Linked DNA regions of Homo sapiens. The protein of the gene in region 2 purifies or fractionates together with the protein of the main gene of each other region. This does not show direct contact. Each region holds a gene or a part of one and is shown on either strand. Other genes may lie near its edges.

The links. The genes of interacting proteins can lie anywhere in the genome.
Region 1: the proteins of BASP1 (region 2) and NUCKS1 fractionate together in Homo sapiens (co-fractionation; one large-scale study listed by BioGRID). This does not show direct contact.
Region 3: the proteins of BASP1 (region 2) and TPD52L1 fractionate together in Homo sapiens (co-fractionation; one large-scale study listed by BioGRID). This does not show direct contact.
Region 4: the proteins of BASP1 (region 2) and GPC1 purify together in Homo sapiens (co-immunoprecipitation; one large-scale study listed by IntAct). This does not show direct contact.

What each region holds. Positions count from the first base shown.
Region 1 is NC_000001.11:205,747,383-205,751,663, forward strand, and holds the start of NUCKS1 (nuclear ubiquitous casein and cyclin-dependent kinase substrate 1), read right to left. Parts: upstream 2,801-4,281; 5' UTR 2,592-2,800; coding exon 2,575-2,591; intron 1-2,574.
Region 2 is NC_000005.10:17,224,131-17,227,630, reverse strand, and holds part of BASP1 (brain acid soluble protein 1), read right to left. Parts: intron 1-3,500.
Region 3 is NC_000006.12:125,251,273-125,254,772, reverse strand, and holds part of TPD52L1 (tumor protein D53), read right to left. Parts: intron 2,752-3,500; coding exon of another isoform or gene 2,733-2,751; exon of another isoform or gene 2,164-2,732; intron 1,057-2,163; coding exon 1,018-1,056; intron 1-1,017.
Region 4 is NC_000002.12:240,463,163-240,466,662, reverse strand, and holds part of GPC1 (glypican-1 precursor), read right to left. Parts: intron 3,317-3,500; coding exon 3,151-3,316; intron 2,048-3,150; coding exon 1,917-2,047; intron 1,808-1,916; coding exon 1,688-1,807; intron 1,587-1,687; coding exon 1,453-1,586; intron 1,191-1,452; coding exon 1,015-1,190; intron 606-1,014; coding exon 373-605; 3' UTR 1-372. UniProt on the Homo sapiens protein: Cell surface proteoglycan that bears heparan sulfate. Binds, via the heparan sulfate side chains, alpha-4 (V) collagen and participates in Schwann cell myelination.

The DNA of each region.
Region 1 (4,281 bases), on a different chromosome or scaffold from region 2:
AGTCGGCCACTGCAAAGGGTAAAGACAGCAATCTTGTATGAACAAAGTTAAACATAACGTGCTAGACACAGGTCTTTGCAAAACCATGCAGTAGCCAATAGGTCCACCATACCACCCTTCATTTGGAAATTGATGCTAAGGTGCCATAGGTACATTTCCAAATGCTCTTAAAATGTTTAGGTTCATATTAAAATAAAAATGGATATTTATGGTACAATGAGAACCAGAAAAACTGCAAAATTATACACAGGCCTAAGGGCAGAAATACCCCAAAAGACGACACAGTGACAATATTTTCCAACTTGTGCTTTTTTGTTTTTAAAACAAGGCTGATGATTCTGAAATCAGGTCAATGTCTATCACTTTTTTCGTTGATGTTAAATGCACTAAGGGAATATAGATTCTTCAATTATACTTTGAAACAACATCATTTCCCTAAGTCAGGACTTTTTTATTGCAAAATTTAACAAACCACCAAACTCAAGTTTAATTATTTCTGCTTTATTATTGGTCATGAATAAAGACTTCTTTTAAAAAATAATTACAAAGAATTTATGACTAAAATATACTCCGTAACCAACTTGCTCTGAAATTAATAATTTGAAAATGGCAAAGAAAAAAAAAAACAGCCCACAACATATTAACTTCACTCTTCAATTAGGGGAAATAAACAAGGTCAAAATTAGTTTAAACAACATACTGAGTAATAAAAAAGTTGTGCAGAAGTCCCAATGCCTCCAAAAAACTGATAGAATGTGCTTAATATATATATCCCCACATGGTAACATAAAAAATCCAAGTTTTCCAGTAAAAATGTTCTGTTCATGTTCCAATACCTAAATCTGGGAAAACAAATTCAGGCAGATGAGATAAGAACGTCACCACAATAAAATAAAGTCATCAAAACTTAGTGAACTAAAATTTAAAAGGTAGAGGAATTATTTTTCCTAATTTGACCTAATTTGACCACACAGTAATTACTTCCAGAAGACAAAAGATCCAATCCAGGTAAAATAAATCTTTATTTTATTATTTTACCTGATCCTAAAGAAAATATTCTACGTGAGTTGATGGATACATTGGTCAAGTTTTATGCCAAAAAAATTACGCAAACTATACTCTGAAAGAGCTATCCAGACTCCTTGCCAAAAGGCCAGCATAACTTTCAGAGTAGAGATCGTGAGTTACCACAGATGCTGATTGAAACAGAGCTAACAGCAGCTTTCTCCTCATTCCCACCCCGTGTGTAGGAGTACGCAGTCTCATACCACCACCAGTTGGAGGATGATCTAGTCTGGAGACAGAACGGTGTAGAACAAAACCCTTGCCAGGGTCCCAAACCTCTCTTTAGAACTCTAATTAAAGGTACTTCCGTTTCCCACACAACTTGGAATGAAGGGGAAGCAACGACTGTTAAAACATTTAAAAACTAAGCCTTTATCTATTTATTTAGAAAACACACTATGCAAAGAAGCCAATTCCTTACATTAAAAATATTTATTTGCAACAGCTCTCCTTTTTAAGGCCTCAACAGATTGGACTAAACCACACCCCTCCATAAATGGCACATTCCATACAATAGCCTGGAGAATGGCATAGGACGATTCCACCGACAGCTGGGGGAATAGCAAACTTGTTGAAATTCCGAGAATGAAGTCTGATGGTTACCCGAACCTAGCCCTTTTATTACTAAAGTCACTCGGGGACAAGAGGGTTACAAAAATATCCCGAGACGCGTACGCGGGTGAGAGTGGAACGAGAACCACACGGGATTTGGGCCGTGCTGTTAACCCGCACCTCCCTGAGTACGGACATTTCCCCGAGGAAGGACATTTCTAGTCGGAGAGAAAGAGCGAACTTTGGGGTTAACTCTCTCAAAACTCTGAGGTGGGGAGAGAGGCAGCAGCCCATTATTTTCCAGGATCCAGTCCCGAACTCTCACTTTTGCCCGGGGGGAAAAAAACGGGTCCCGCCCACGCTCGGCCCGATCCGGGAGGCGGGGCCTGCAGCGACCCCGAAGGACAGAGGCGGGGCCGGTTGGCAGTGCTGCCCCTCCCCCTTTGCCAGGAACACCCCCGTCCGCTACAGAGAGGGCTCAGGGCCCCCACCCCCGCGCCAGTCGCTGGGGGAAGGGGCAATACGGGTGCCTCCGCCCCTCCTCGCTGAAGGTGGGGAGTGGAGCTCGAGTCCGCCCGCCTCCCCGCGCTGGCTCCAAGGGGACGGCCCCGAGGAGGTGGGGCCTCTTGGGGGCGCTGACTTCACACCCCTCCCCCTCCGGCCGCTGGCGGCTCAGGGACACCCCGCCCGCTCTAGTGCGGTGGGTGGGGGAGGCAGCTGAGCAGACCGGAGCCCTGCAGCGGCGCGGGGCGGGGAGGGGCGCGCGCACGGGCGCGCAGCCACCACCCCCGCGCGCCAGCAGGGCCCCCCACGCTCAAGGGTGCGCGCGGGCCCCGAAAGGGAGGAGGCCGCGCGCGGCACCGGGGATGGCGGACTCTAGCCTTCTGTCCCCCACTCTTTTCACCACTCGCCCCCATCCCCCTCCAACCCGCTCCAGGCCTCAGACTCCGCACTGACCTGACAGGCCGCGACATGTTCGCTGTCGAAACAGGACCGAGTCGAGAAGCCAAAGACCAGGACCCCCCCCACCCCGCGCGCTCGGCGCCCCACCCCCCCCGAACTTCAGCCGATGGGACCGCTGCTGCCGAACCCCGAGCTGCTGGCTTCTCAAACTCCGCTGCTCTTTGGTTCAGGGCTCCTGGAACAGACGAGCCCCCCGCTCCCCCGTCTCTTCAAAATGGATGAATCAAACCAGCCGAAAATGCGCCAAAGCCGCCGTGCAACCAAACCCACTAGGGTTTGTGCGCTCCTCCCCAACACGCCTGCTCATTGGAGACTTCTGCCAGATGCGCCCAGATCATTAGTCCGTTTGAATCATCACGTCTTCCAGGCCCCGCCCTGCTCTCTGATAGGCTCCACCTTCACCGTGGGGGTCCTGTTAGTCAAGATGCTCTGAGAGCGCACGGCCGCAAAACAAAAATGGTCGCTGCTTAGCCCGCCCCCTGGTTTCCACTCCAGAGTTGCAGATTCGTCTGGGGTCGTATCTTAGAAAGACTAGAAAAAAAGATTTATGTAGGGTTCAGCGTTGCTCAGTGTTAGTTTAATGGTGTTTCATCTCGTCTGCCTTGATCACCTTGAAAATCCTCTAATAGCAAAACCCGTGGGAGAGGCAGCAGATTCGTCACTGCGGGGCTGCTACAGAATTGGAGGGAAATTCCTTAGGTTCAAAAAATTTGACCTTAAACCTACAAGCCCCTTACCCTGGCTTCGGCATTAACCCTCAGGGACCAAATGAGGCTGCTGGAGTAGAGAGGCAGGATCATAATCAAGGAATATCTTCACCCCCAATTACCATTCTCCATTCTGGACCTTGAGATCCACTTCAGGGTCATTAAAGTCCCAGTCTGGTGCATTACTATTTTAAGAAAAGAGTCAGGTGTACAATAACTAAGAGCATGAGCTCAGGGGCCACAAGGTATTTCAGGTGGAATCCCAGGTCCACTACTTAATGGTGGTATAACTTTCCTTCTCTGTGCCTCAGTTTTCTCATCTGTAAAATGGGAAACAAGGGTACCTAACTGCATAGGCTTATTAGTATTAAATGAGTTGATATATCTATCAAAAGTCTTTAGGATAGTCTCTGGCTCACAGTAAGTGCTACGTAAGTGTTAAATCCAAGTTTTAAAAGATGATTCCGTCCCTGGGTAGAGATGGGTGGAGCTGGCTCAAGACCCTATGAATTCTATTGATTTACCCTTGCACTTTGAAAAACAAAACAAAGACTCTTCGAAGTCATATAACTGAAAGTAACGCACATCATTTCACTTAAATCCGTGAGCATTTGTTGGATGCCTAATACTCTCAAAGGCAGAGCTCAGGATTCCTATGTGAATGGCTAAGGCTGAGTCTGCTATCGAAAATAGACGTCAATCCCTGTCACAGTCAAAGCGATCATTTTTGTTTGGTGGCTGTGCGCTCTCAGAGCATCTTGACTAACAGGACCCCACGGTGAAGGTGGGGCCTATCAGAGAGTAGGGTGGGGCCTGGAAGACGTGATGATTCAAACGGACTAATGATCTGGGCGCATCTGGCAGAAGTCTCCAATGAGCAGTCAGTTAACAACCAATTGAAGATACACTTTCCAAACAACAACAACAAAAAACACACCACATCTGCCTCCTGAAAGTCTCCCTTTGTAAAATCTGGCTTCCCAAAAAGAAGAGA
Region 2 (3,500 bases):
GGAGTTTGTGACCAGCCTGGCCAATATAGTGAAACCCCATCTCTACTAAAAAATACAAAAAAATTAGCCGGGCATAGTGGCGGCACCTGTAGGCCCAGCTACTTTGGAGGCTGGGGCAAAAGAATTGCTTGAACCTGGGAGGCGGAGGTTGCAGTGAGCCGAGATCGTGCCACTGCACTCCAGCCTGGGCGACACGGCGAGACTCTGTCAAAAAAAATATTGTATATATATATATATATAAAAATTAGTCAAGCTTGGTGGCGTACACCTGTAGTCCCAGCTACTAGGGAGGCTGAGGCACGAGAATTGCTTGAACCCAGGAGGCAGAGGTTGTGGTGAGCAGAAATTGCGCCACTGCACTCCAGCCTGGGCGACAGAGTGAGACTGTCTAAAAAGAAAAAAGGACGGGTGCGGTGGCTCACACCTGTAATCCTAGCACTTTGGGAGGCCAAGACAGGTGGATCACGAAGTCAGGAGTTCAAGACCAGCCTGACCAACATGGTGAAACCTTGTCTCTACTAAAAATACGAAAAAATTAGCTGGGCATGGTGGCGGGTGCCAGTAATCCCAGCTACTCGGGAGGCTGAGGCAGGAGAATCGCTTGAACCCAGGAGGCTGAGGTTGCAGTGAGCTGAGATTGCGCCACTGCACTCCAGCCTGGGCGACAGAGCAAAACGAAAAAAAGAAAAAAAAAAAAAAGAAAAATGAGTTATTCAGAGAAGATTCCAGGACACTTTATCTAATCACAGTAATAATGGCTATAGTAAATACCCAGGTGATCATCTAACCTCACCCTGCCTTCTGGGTGCATTGCAGAATTAAGGAGTGGGAAGTCACTCCAGAACTCTCTGCCTGTCCATCTAAAGTCAATCTGATTTCTCTACATTTTCCTTTTCTCCAATCATCTTACACCTAAGGCAAATACAGACACTGTGATCCTCTAATGAAATAGCTGAGAACATTAGTAAGGGTTAAAGACAGCAAATATTCCTACAGCCTCTACAGTTTCCAAGGCAAGCTCAGAGAAGGACAGGAGACCATCCTATGAAGACCCAATAACTCCGAGGAAACCTTTCTTCTCTGTCTCTTTAAGAAACAGCTAGTTCTCTCTGTCAGTGGATACTGTTTTCCCCCTTTTGATACACTATTTCCCCCATTAGATCTTGTTACTATTTACCTTGGTTATTGTATTAGTCTACGTGGTAATGGTGTTTTGAATAGACTGTCAAAGGAAAAATGAAGTGGGTCTTTTCAAAGTCACTTTGCCATGCAATTCAGGAAATTTGTAATTTAGAAAGCTCAACCAGGAAAAGTTTTTATCTAACAGCTATTTCTTCATAAACTTAAAAAAGAAGTATTTTTCTCTAATAGAACCACAGCTTTTCTTTAAAAAGACAAAGAAGTTTTAATTTTGGTTTATTTTAGGAATATATCCATTTCTGAATCTACGTAAGTGTAATAATTAAAAGCATTATGAAAATAAAAGTTACCTATTAATTGTGGGTTTCTCTGGAAAATGTAAATTCAAACCTGCTCTTATTGACCTCAATATGTCATTTTAAATGTGAAATTAAAATTGTGTCTCATCAAAAACTAAACTTATCACAGATTATCCAAACACAAATGCACACAGTTTACATTTACCAACATCAGTTTCAAACATCCCAATAGTATGCTTTAGAAAGTGTTTTAGCATCTTAAGCACTTATGTTCCATATTTTAAGGACTACTTCAGAATCTAACAGATTTTTTAAATCCTCTAAATCACCCCAAATACTATAAATGGTAATTTTAAATAAAAAAGATTAAACATCCCGTTGTATGCAGCTCTCAAACCAATAAGCCAGATAACGCTAGAAATCGGCATAAAAGCTCTCCATCCACCACCTGCCACGACAACGTGCACACTGGATCTGCCAAGAGGGCCCCGAGCATTTCAGGGGTGGGTGGGATGCCTGACTGCTCCGCTTGCTCTATAGCCCCCAAATAAGTCTAAAGCCAGCTGGCGTTCTTTTCAAACACATACCCACCATCGCCAGCTTCCCAGCCCCCAACCACTGTGCATTTTGGGAGAAAAACAAGGATTTAACTTAAATTTTAGAAAAACTAAAGTTTAGTTTTATGAAGAAAGTTATTTCAGTGCATGCCATATACTTTTTGGCATATAAAGGAAACCACGTGCACATAATGTAAGAAGCAGAAAGGAGTAAGTTGAGGGGAAGATGGCCTGTGGATGAAGTGGCAGCAGGTAGTGACTGCACCGTCCCCCTGGGGCATGTGTGGTGTATTAAAAGGCCGAAGAGGTCTCCTCTGGGGGAGATCATGAGACGGATATAGGATCCAGACTGGTTTTTTTTTTAATGGTTCTAGGGTACAAAAAAAAATGGTAGAAAAAAAAGTTTTACGTTGCAGACAGTGAGTAAGAGTGACTCAATTAGACATTCTCTGCTTCTCTCTCAGAAGAGAGGGGCAGCAGGAGTGAGGCTTTATGGGGAAATAACCTGGGTTTCCACGCAGCCCATAAGCAGCTCGTGGGACTCTGAGCAACCCACTAACTTCTCTAAGATTATTTTGAGTTCCAAAATGAGTGTTTAGTCATGAGCTTTTAAACCTTCTGCTCCAAGGAAAGTACTTACAAAGGACTGAGGTTTCGATAGTGGTTAAAAGCAGCCACTGGCTTTCTGTAAGTGGATCCTGCGTGGACGCGGAACAAAACAGATTGACCAATTTAGGCAGGACTTGGTTTATTTCTAATCAGGCAACACTAACTACACAGTGGCAGACGGTCTGCTAGAGCCTGGTCCATATCTCAGAGCAAAATTGCAGATAAGTAAGACATTTGGGGTTATGACTTCCATCTGCAATGTCCAAGGAGAAACGTGAAAGTATCAACCAAATCCACATTTATAGTCCTCAGTAAGAGCAACCACAATCATCATACTAGAAAGGAATGACTTAAGGTATTAGTCTCCATTCACTATGACAAGAAGCACCTCTAATCTACAAGCAATTTAACGTAATACTGATGAAATATTAGAAGTATACACTGGATCTCTTCCATAAATAATTTTTCATTGAAGAAGTTAGTATCGCTCTCTCTAAATTAATACTGAAGATGTCAATATGTGAAAAGGCTACCCATTTTATTCAAGAGCCCCCCTTCCCCTTTTTTCCCCCCCTGAAGAGTCCATATTACCTAAGATAAAATGGCCAAGGCTTAGGAGAAGTACAGTGTAGCTCCATCTACACGGATTGAAATCCTAGGAAACTTTTTAAAAGACATAACCACTATATCTAAAATCCCCTTCCTTACAGTGAACACCTGACAGATAGAGTAAAATATATGACTTCCCTCCAGAATCCGTAAGATACAAAAACCTGTTTAAGGAAGCTGTTAAACAACAATTTACCCAAAATGAGAGTGAATTCACCTTTGCTCAACAACAAAGTGTCCAGAAGGACAAAAGCAAATCCTTGGGCATATCCCTGAAGTAAATGTC
Region 3 (3,500 bases), on a different chromosome or scaffold from region 2:
ACTTTTTTAGCACTGCAAATGACCCTAGGAAGAATTTCTCTTCATGACAGTTAAAAAACAGAGGAAAAGATTATATATATGAAGAATTTGGCTTCGGCGGTCTCAAACTATTGAAAGTAACTAAACTCCTTCTATAATGCCTTCAAACAACAACATCAATATAAAGCAGGTAGAAGAGGCATAGCTCTGACTGAAGTGGGGGAAGATCCCAAAGGCTTCATCTCTAGGCAGCCTTAGGGCTCGGTGGGTGGAGGGGCATCTTTGACAAGCAGCTAATCTGGTTCTAGCCTCTTATTTTAAATATGATGAAGCTGATACCATTGAGGTGATTTTCCCAAGAGTGCAAAGTTAATCCTTGGCAGAGCTGGGCTAGAGCCTGCATTTTCTGATTTTCAATTTAACACTCATTCCTGTCTTGCTATTAGTTTAATTTTATCTGATTGCATCACTATGCCATGCAAACTTGAAGTTAAGAATGTCTTTCTCACCAGTTTTTATCTGGTCAGTAATTATACTGACATTTTATTATTTAACAAACATCTCACCTTAATATCCACCTTAAAAATCCTAATGATATCCTCTCTAGAACTTTAGCCTTGCATTTAAACTTGCCCCCAGGCTAGCATTTAATTCTGCGGAAATAAGAAACCCAAGTTTACCTTTGCAAGATTGCTTGGCATGTTCAGACACTGTGCTAAATGCTTTATGTAGGTTCCTTTGTTTATGCCTCACAAACACCATATGAAGTAGGTCTTATTTCTTGCAATATATGGATAAAAGAATTGAGGTTAAGTCACTTGTCTTGGATCACACAGGAAAGACTAGATTTAAGCCAGGATGTCTGGTCAAAAGCCCAAGCTACGCAATTCTTCCACAGAATTGTCAGCCTTTTCTTTTGAAGACCATCAGCAATTTCCTTTCACATAAAGCAGAGGAACCCCATAAGTAAATATAAATAAAATAACACCTTAAACACATTTCATATTAATATTACATAAAATATTTTACACACATTACCTCATAGCAGGCATACTTATGGAATGGCGAATGGAGTAACTTCAGAGCAAAAGCAGATTAAAGGGGAAAAAAGAAAAAAGAAGAGAGCACACATAAGTACATGAAAAACTCCCTATTCGTAGTTCTAAAACAGCAATTCCAAATATCTGAAATATTCCCTGCCCATCTAACCAAGATGACATTTGTTTTTGTTGGGTATAATGGGTATAGTCAGCTTTCAAGGGTATAAATGAAAAGTAGATGGTGGATCCGTGGTTGCATATTATTTTACTTTCTGCAGCCTCCTTTTGCCAGGAAATCTGAGAATGTCTGGTTTCTCCCAGGTGAGCCCAGTAGCCCATGGGCATCTTCTCCAGGCCCAACTTAGGTCTCTACTCCCTTCTGCTCAGGAAAACAGTAAGGAGCAAAAGGCAGTATCCAGGAAATAGAGCCAGGCAGGTAGAAGCTAATCATTCCATGGTAGAGAAACTGGCCAGAGGAAAGCAAGAAGTTAACATAAGACTTTCAAGGAAGCACATGCCAGGCAAACACAGTTCTCATAGGCCATAGGGACTTCTGCATCCATTCTGGTTTGATTGTCAAGATGATTGATTTGTACTAGATGACTGTCAAGAACATCTGGTACAAACACAAACATTCCTGAGAATTTTAAGAGATTTAAACTTCTCATCCCATTAATCCTAGTAGCTGATTCATCTTCCCTCTGGTTGGTTGCCTGTTACTTTCTATTGAGTTCCACTCAGAAATCAGGCTGGGCATGGGGAGGAGCACAATGGGTCCATTTTCCTGGCCTAGTGCTTGCTCCCACCTCACACTTTTCAACAGCGTCCCTGCTTTCTCTTCTCTCAAGGAGCTAATAGTTCAGGGACCAAATCTGTCACCCTTCCCTCATAATATCCACTGAGGGCATTAGTATGGGTAGCACTTTGCTAGAACACAGAAAGAAAAGGACAAACAAATTCATGGGATACTTACGGTCTTACCCTAGACACTTGATTTAGAAACTATTAGGCAGATATTTCCTCAGAAATTACACTTCAAAAGCATCACTAAAAGAGCCTCATCTGCATTACCAATTGGTGTATCTCTGTAAATATAGACCGCTTTCTTAGGAAAAAATTAAAAAAATAAAAGTATATAATAAGATTCCGGCTAAAAGAAGTTTTAATTCGGGGGCTTGGGATTAAAAATCACAAACTTCTTAACATACGTACGTGCTTTTCCGGTACCTTTCTTCCCTTCAACTTCAGAAGGCACAGAAAGTTGAAGGTGAAACATCAACACAAATTATGGGTACAAGAAATTCAGAGAAACATGACAATCTAGAGAAAATCTGTTTTTGTTTCTCAACTTTACTTTCTAGAAGTTTCAGAAAACATATATAACTTTCAATCTCCACTTTGTTTTTTTTTCTTCTTCTTTTCAATTCTAAGAAGCTCTGTCAACACCGGAAGAAATGGTGCAGAGAAAGAGACTCCTGAGAGAGAGCTCAGCAAGTGAAATGGTGTAAATGATTCAGAAATGAGATAGAGATGTACTTCAATAAGTTCAAATGTATTAAGTGCCCTATAAACTATCTTCCTGGTCACGGGAACTGTCTGGAAAACAGAGTGTAGTTTTGTTGGTTCAGGCACAGTGTGAAAGAAACAGGGAGCCCTGGAAAGCAAAGGGGCAGCAAGGGAGTGGGGAAAGCCCCACACGCAGCCCTGTGGCGCTTACCCGATGGAGTGAGACCTGCAGCCCGGAAGCACAGGAGAGAAGAGCAGGAGCAGAGTTAGCAAACAGGAGGCAGAGAAACACTGCACTGCCCTTGGTGGTCCCCTTTCAAGGGCCCCAGAGCACAGACAGGGTAGCTTCATTTACCACTCTTGATTACACTGACTTTTTAATGTCTCTGACAAATCATTTTACCAACTCAAGTTTTGCTTCTGTTATTCCTATAAGTATATAACAATGATTGGACTGTAATAAAATGACATGCCTTCTCCAAACATTTTGTCCCCAGTGGATCAGTTTGAACAAATTAACTGAGAAGTTCCCAGAAGATGCCAATGTTATTAGAAAAATGATTCCAACCGCTTGGATTTCTTCTGAGTACTTTCCTAAGTGTGACCTCATTTTAACTTCACAGGAAATATTTTGGTTAAGTGGGTATTAACAATGTTATTTTATGGATGGAGAAAGAGAGTGGGCAATTCCATGACAATCAGGTTAAAATGAGAATCTTACTTAGCTCAGAAAAATATAACTTATTTTTACAAAACATACAAATTAAATCTTAACATAAAGCTTTTTTTTCAGCTATTAAAAGGCCCAAATTCTAGGTTTTACAAAATCTGTAAATATTAATTTGGAGTTATTTTAAAGAAAAACTGAGAGGTACTGTTGTTCTTCCAAGCTATCTGAATTTTGCTGGTAATGTTTTTGAATACATTCAGAAATTTGTTACCAGAATGCACAAAAATGTTATAGTGTAACTAATA
Region 4 (3,500 bases), on a different chromosome or scaffold from region 2:
CACAGGCTCGCTGTGGGCTCCAGCGGGTTGCTTTGAGGCCTCCTCTGTAGGCCTCGAGGGGCTGCTTCTGCGGCGGTGCAGGGAGCTGGGGGGAGGGCTAGGCAGCCGGAGGTGCCCCTGAGGTCCCTGAAATACATGGCTTTTGGGCACACTGGCTCCCAGCTGACCTGAGGACCTCATACAAAATTAAAAGGCAGAAAGGCAGGCGAGGCCAGGCCTGGGGCTGGGACCTCTGCGCCTGCCCCTGCTCAGAGCCGCCGGCCCTCCCTGTCCCACCCCAGGCCTCTCCAGGCTGAGGTGAATTAAATATCGTCTGTGTTGTATTTTTGGCAAAGTCAGTCCTTGGCCTCTGTCCCTGGGGCCTTGGGGCAGTTACCGCCACCGGGGCCTGGCTACTGTAAGGGCCAGGAAGAGGAGGAGGGGCAGGAGGAAGGTCGGGGGCTGGGGGCAGCTGGCAGCCGAGGTCTTCTGTCCTTCCTGCTCTGACAGGCCTGGGAGGGCATGGGTCAAGGGCGTCCGGGAGCTGGAGCTCTTCCTGCTGACCTTCCGGCTGCAGAGGTCATCCAGACAGCCATCACCGCTGCCCGAGCCGCTGCCGTCGTCACCTGGGAAGGAGAGGAGGCTCCGGCAGGCAGGTCCCCACAGGAGACCCCAGTGCAGCACCACCCTGTAAGGGCCCGTGCCAGGTGACCCCAACATCCTTTCGGTGTGGAATCCCAGGACCAGCAGCACCTGATCCCCGCTGACCCCTGAGGCTGGGAGACTCTCACTCCCTGGGGCTGCCTCCCTTGGTCCCTGGAGCCAAAGCCAACAGACATCCCGGCCAGGCCTCCAGGGCGCCGCAGAGGTGCAGGGCTCGGTGATCGTGCCTGGGCAGCACAGCGTCCTCAGACTCACTGTGGTGATGCCGGAGCAGAGGGCCCCTCGGGTGGGGGAACCCGGAGGGCAGTCACACCCCTGTGGCACCCCCACCAACCCTGGCCCCTTGGCCGCCCGGCCAGGCCCTGCCCTCACTGGCGTCCTGGAAGTCCACGTCGTTGCCGTTGTAGGCGCTGCGCAGCCGGTTGGTCATGATCTTCAGCTGCATGATCTGCTGCCGGATGGTCATGTCCGGCTTGGTGATGTCCACCTCCACCTCGGGGTTGTTGATCTGGTTGGCCAGGCCGTCACCCATGACCTCGGGGAGGTACCTGGGGGAAAGGCAGGCAGAGCCCAGGTCACTGCTCCAGCCCCTGCAAAGGGCCATCACCTGAGCAGGACACTCTCCCACGCTCTGAGCCTGAGATGCCCAGCAGCTTCCAGGGACCGAGCAGAGCCCACACAGGCCGCAGAGAAGTGGGGCTCAAGCCCTCCAGCAAGGGACGTGGCCCCGTGCAGACAGCACCTGGCCCAGGCACAGCCCAATGGAGGCGGCATGGGAGGGAGGGCTGTGCCAGCCAGGTGGGCACCTACCGGCCTCTGGCCATCCCGTTCCAGCAGCGGTCATCACTGGCAGTGCTCAGGGCCATCTTCTCACTGCACAGTGTCCCTGGGAGGCTGATCCAGAAGTCCTGGACGTCGCGGAGCTGGGCCTTGGCTTCGGAGACCTGTGGGGCAGCAGTCAGGCCACTGGGCTGCCAGGGCCCGCCCGCCTCTGCCTGTCTGCCTCCCTCATGCCTGGTCCAGTGGACACGCAGGGGCCACTCACCAGCTTCTCCAGCGTGCCTGAAGGTGGCCTCTCCCGCGGGGCCAGCTTGCCCCGGCGCCGCTTCTCCTCAGGCCCGGGGCCCTGGGGGTTGACCTTGGGGTTCCCGCAGCCCTGGATGACCTGGAGAGACACTGCAGGGTCCTTGGGGGGTAGTGGGGCCCCTCAAGCCCAATGGGGCCACATCCAGGACCCCCACCCCGCTGTGCTCGTCACGTCCTCCTGCCCGCACCTTGGCCGTGAGCGTGTCCCTGTTGTCCTGGAGGGCGTTGATGGCCTCCGCCAGCCACGTGTGCACGCTGCCGATGACACTCTCCACACCCGATGTACCCCAGAACTTGTCGGTGATGAGCACCATGGAGTCTAGGACAGGCGTTAACACGCGGACACACAGGCGTTAACGCGCGCACACAGGCGTTGACACGCACACGCAGGCGTCACCACGTGTGCATGTTAATGCAGTCTTGACAGCACGGGTCAGCATGGGAGATCCCACGTGTGCACTCAGGTTGGCCCGTGTGACATGTGCAGGCCACGTGCACTCAGCTTGGCCCACACCCACGTGTGCACCTGTGCCACGGGCACAGGTGAACACGCACATACACAGAGGCCATTCTGCATGCTTGCTGGCCTGCCGTGTCTCGTATGTCCACGCTGGCTCATGCAGGTGTTGACATGTACATACGCTGGCTCACCTTGGTCCAGCTTGTGTGCACATGAGCCCGTGTGAGCTGGTGTGTATGCATGCTGGCTTACCTCATGCCCCCCCCATGTACACCTTAGTTCATGTGTGTGTTGCGTGCACGGTGAGCACATGTACAAGTAAAGCTCATGCATTTTGTCAGCTCCCATCACGTTAGCACACACCTGTTGGCCCCGTGTCAGCACATGCTAGCACGTGTTGGCACAGATGCATGCTGTCCCCCCTCATGTAAGCATGTGTACATGTTAGTGGATCTGGATAAGCATGTACATATTACCACACACGTGTTGGCATTGATGCGGGTCAGCCCAGCTCATGTCATCACATGCGCCCAGGAGCACACGCTGTACTGGTGGGCACTGGCCCACTGTGTGTCAGCAAGTGAGCACGCCAGTTCGCATGTGTCAGCCTGTCATGTGACGGTGCATGTATGTGTTAGCTTAAACAAGTGCCGGTCCTCGATGAGTCACACGTGTTGGCATGTATGCACACCGAGGTGCTTGCTAAGTGGGGAAGGACAAGAAACTATGACCCCACAGGGCTCCCTCCCTGGCAGCTGCCCCAAGTCACACATCACTCAGGACATTCAAAAGGCACCCTGGCCCCTCAACCCTGCAGCACCACCCAGATCTGGCCCGGGTCAGGGCATCCCTGATCAGGTCCCTGGGTCCAAGCTCTAAGCTAGGGACCACCCGCCCCCCAGGACCCCCAGTCGTGCACTCCCCAAGACAGTTCCAGGCCGCTCTCGCGGGTGGGGGCTCACCCAGGAGGTTCCTCCACTCGGCGTCCAGGTCGGCCTGGTTGGCAAGGCAGCCCTTGAGCACATTTCGGCAATAGTCAGGGCAGGGCCTGGCGCCGGGGACTCCCAGGCAGTGAGCACAGTAGACCAGCTTCATGACAGCTCTCGAGCACTCCGGGCCCAGGGGGACCTGGGGAGCAAGGGACCCTAAGCCAGGCCCCGAGGCCCTGGGGGTGCCTGGCCCCGGCCAGCCCCTAACGAAGCCCCAGGGTAGGGGGCTCTGGAGGGAAGTCAGGGGAGGCCTCTGCTCTGCCCCAGCTCGTGGTGGTCGCTGCCTGACTCGCAGGGCCTGCCAGCCCAGACGGCCCTCATTT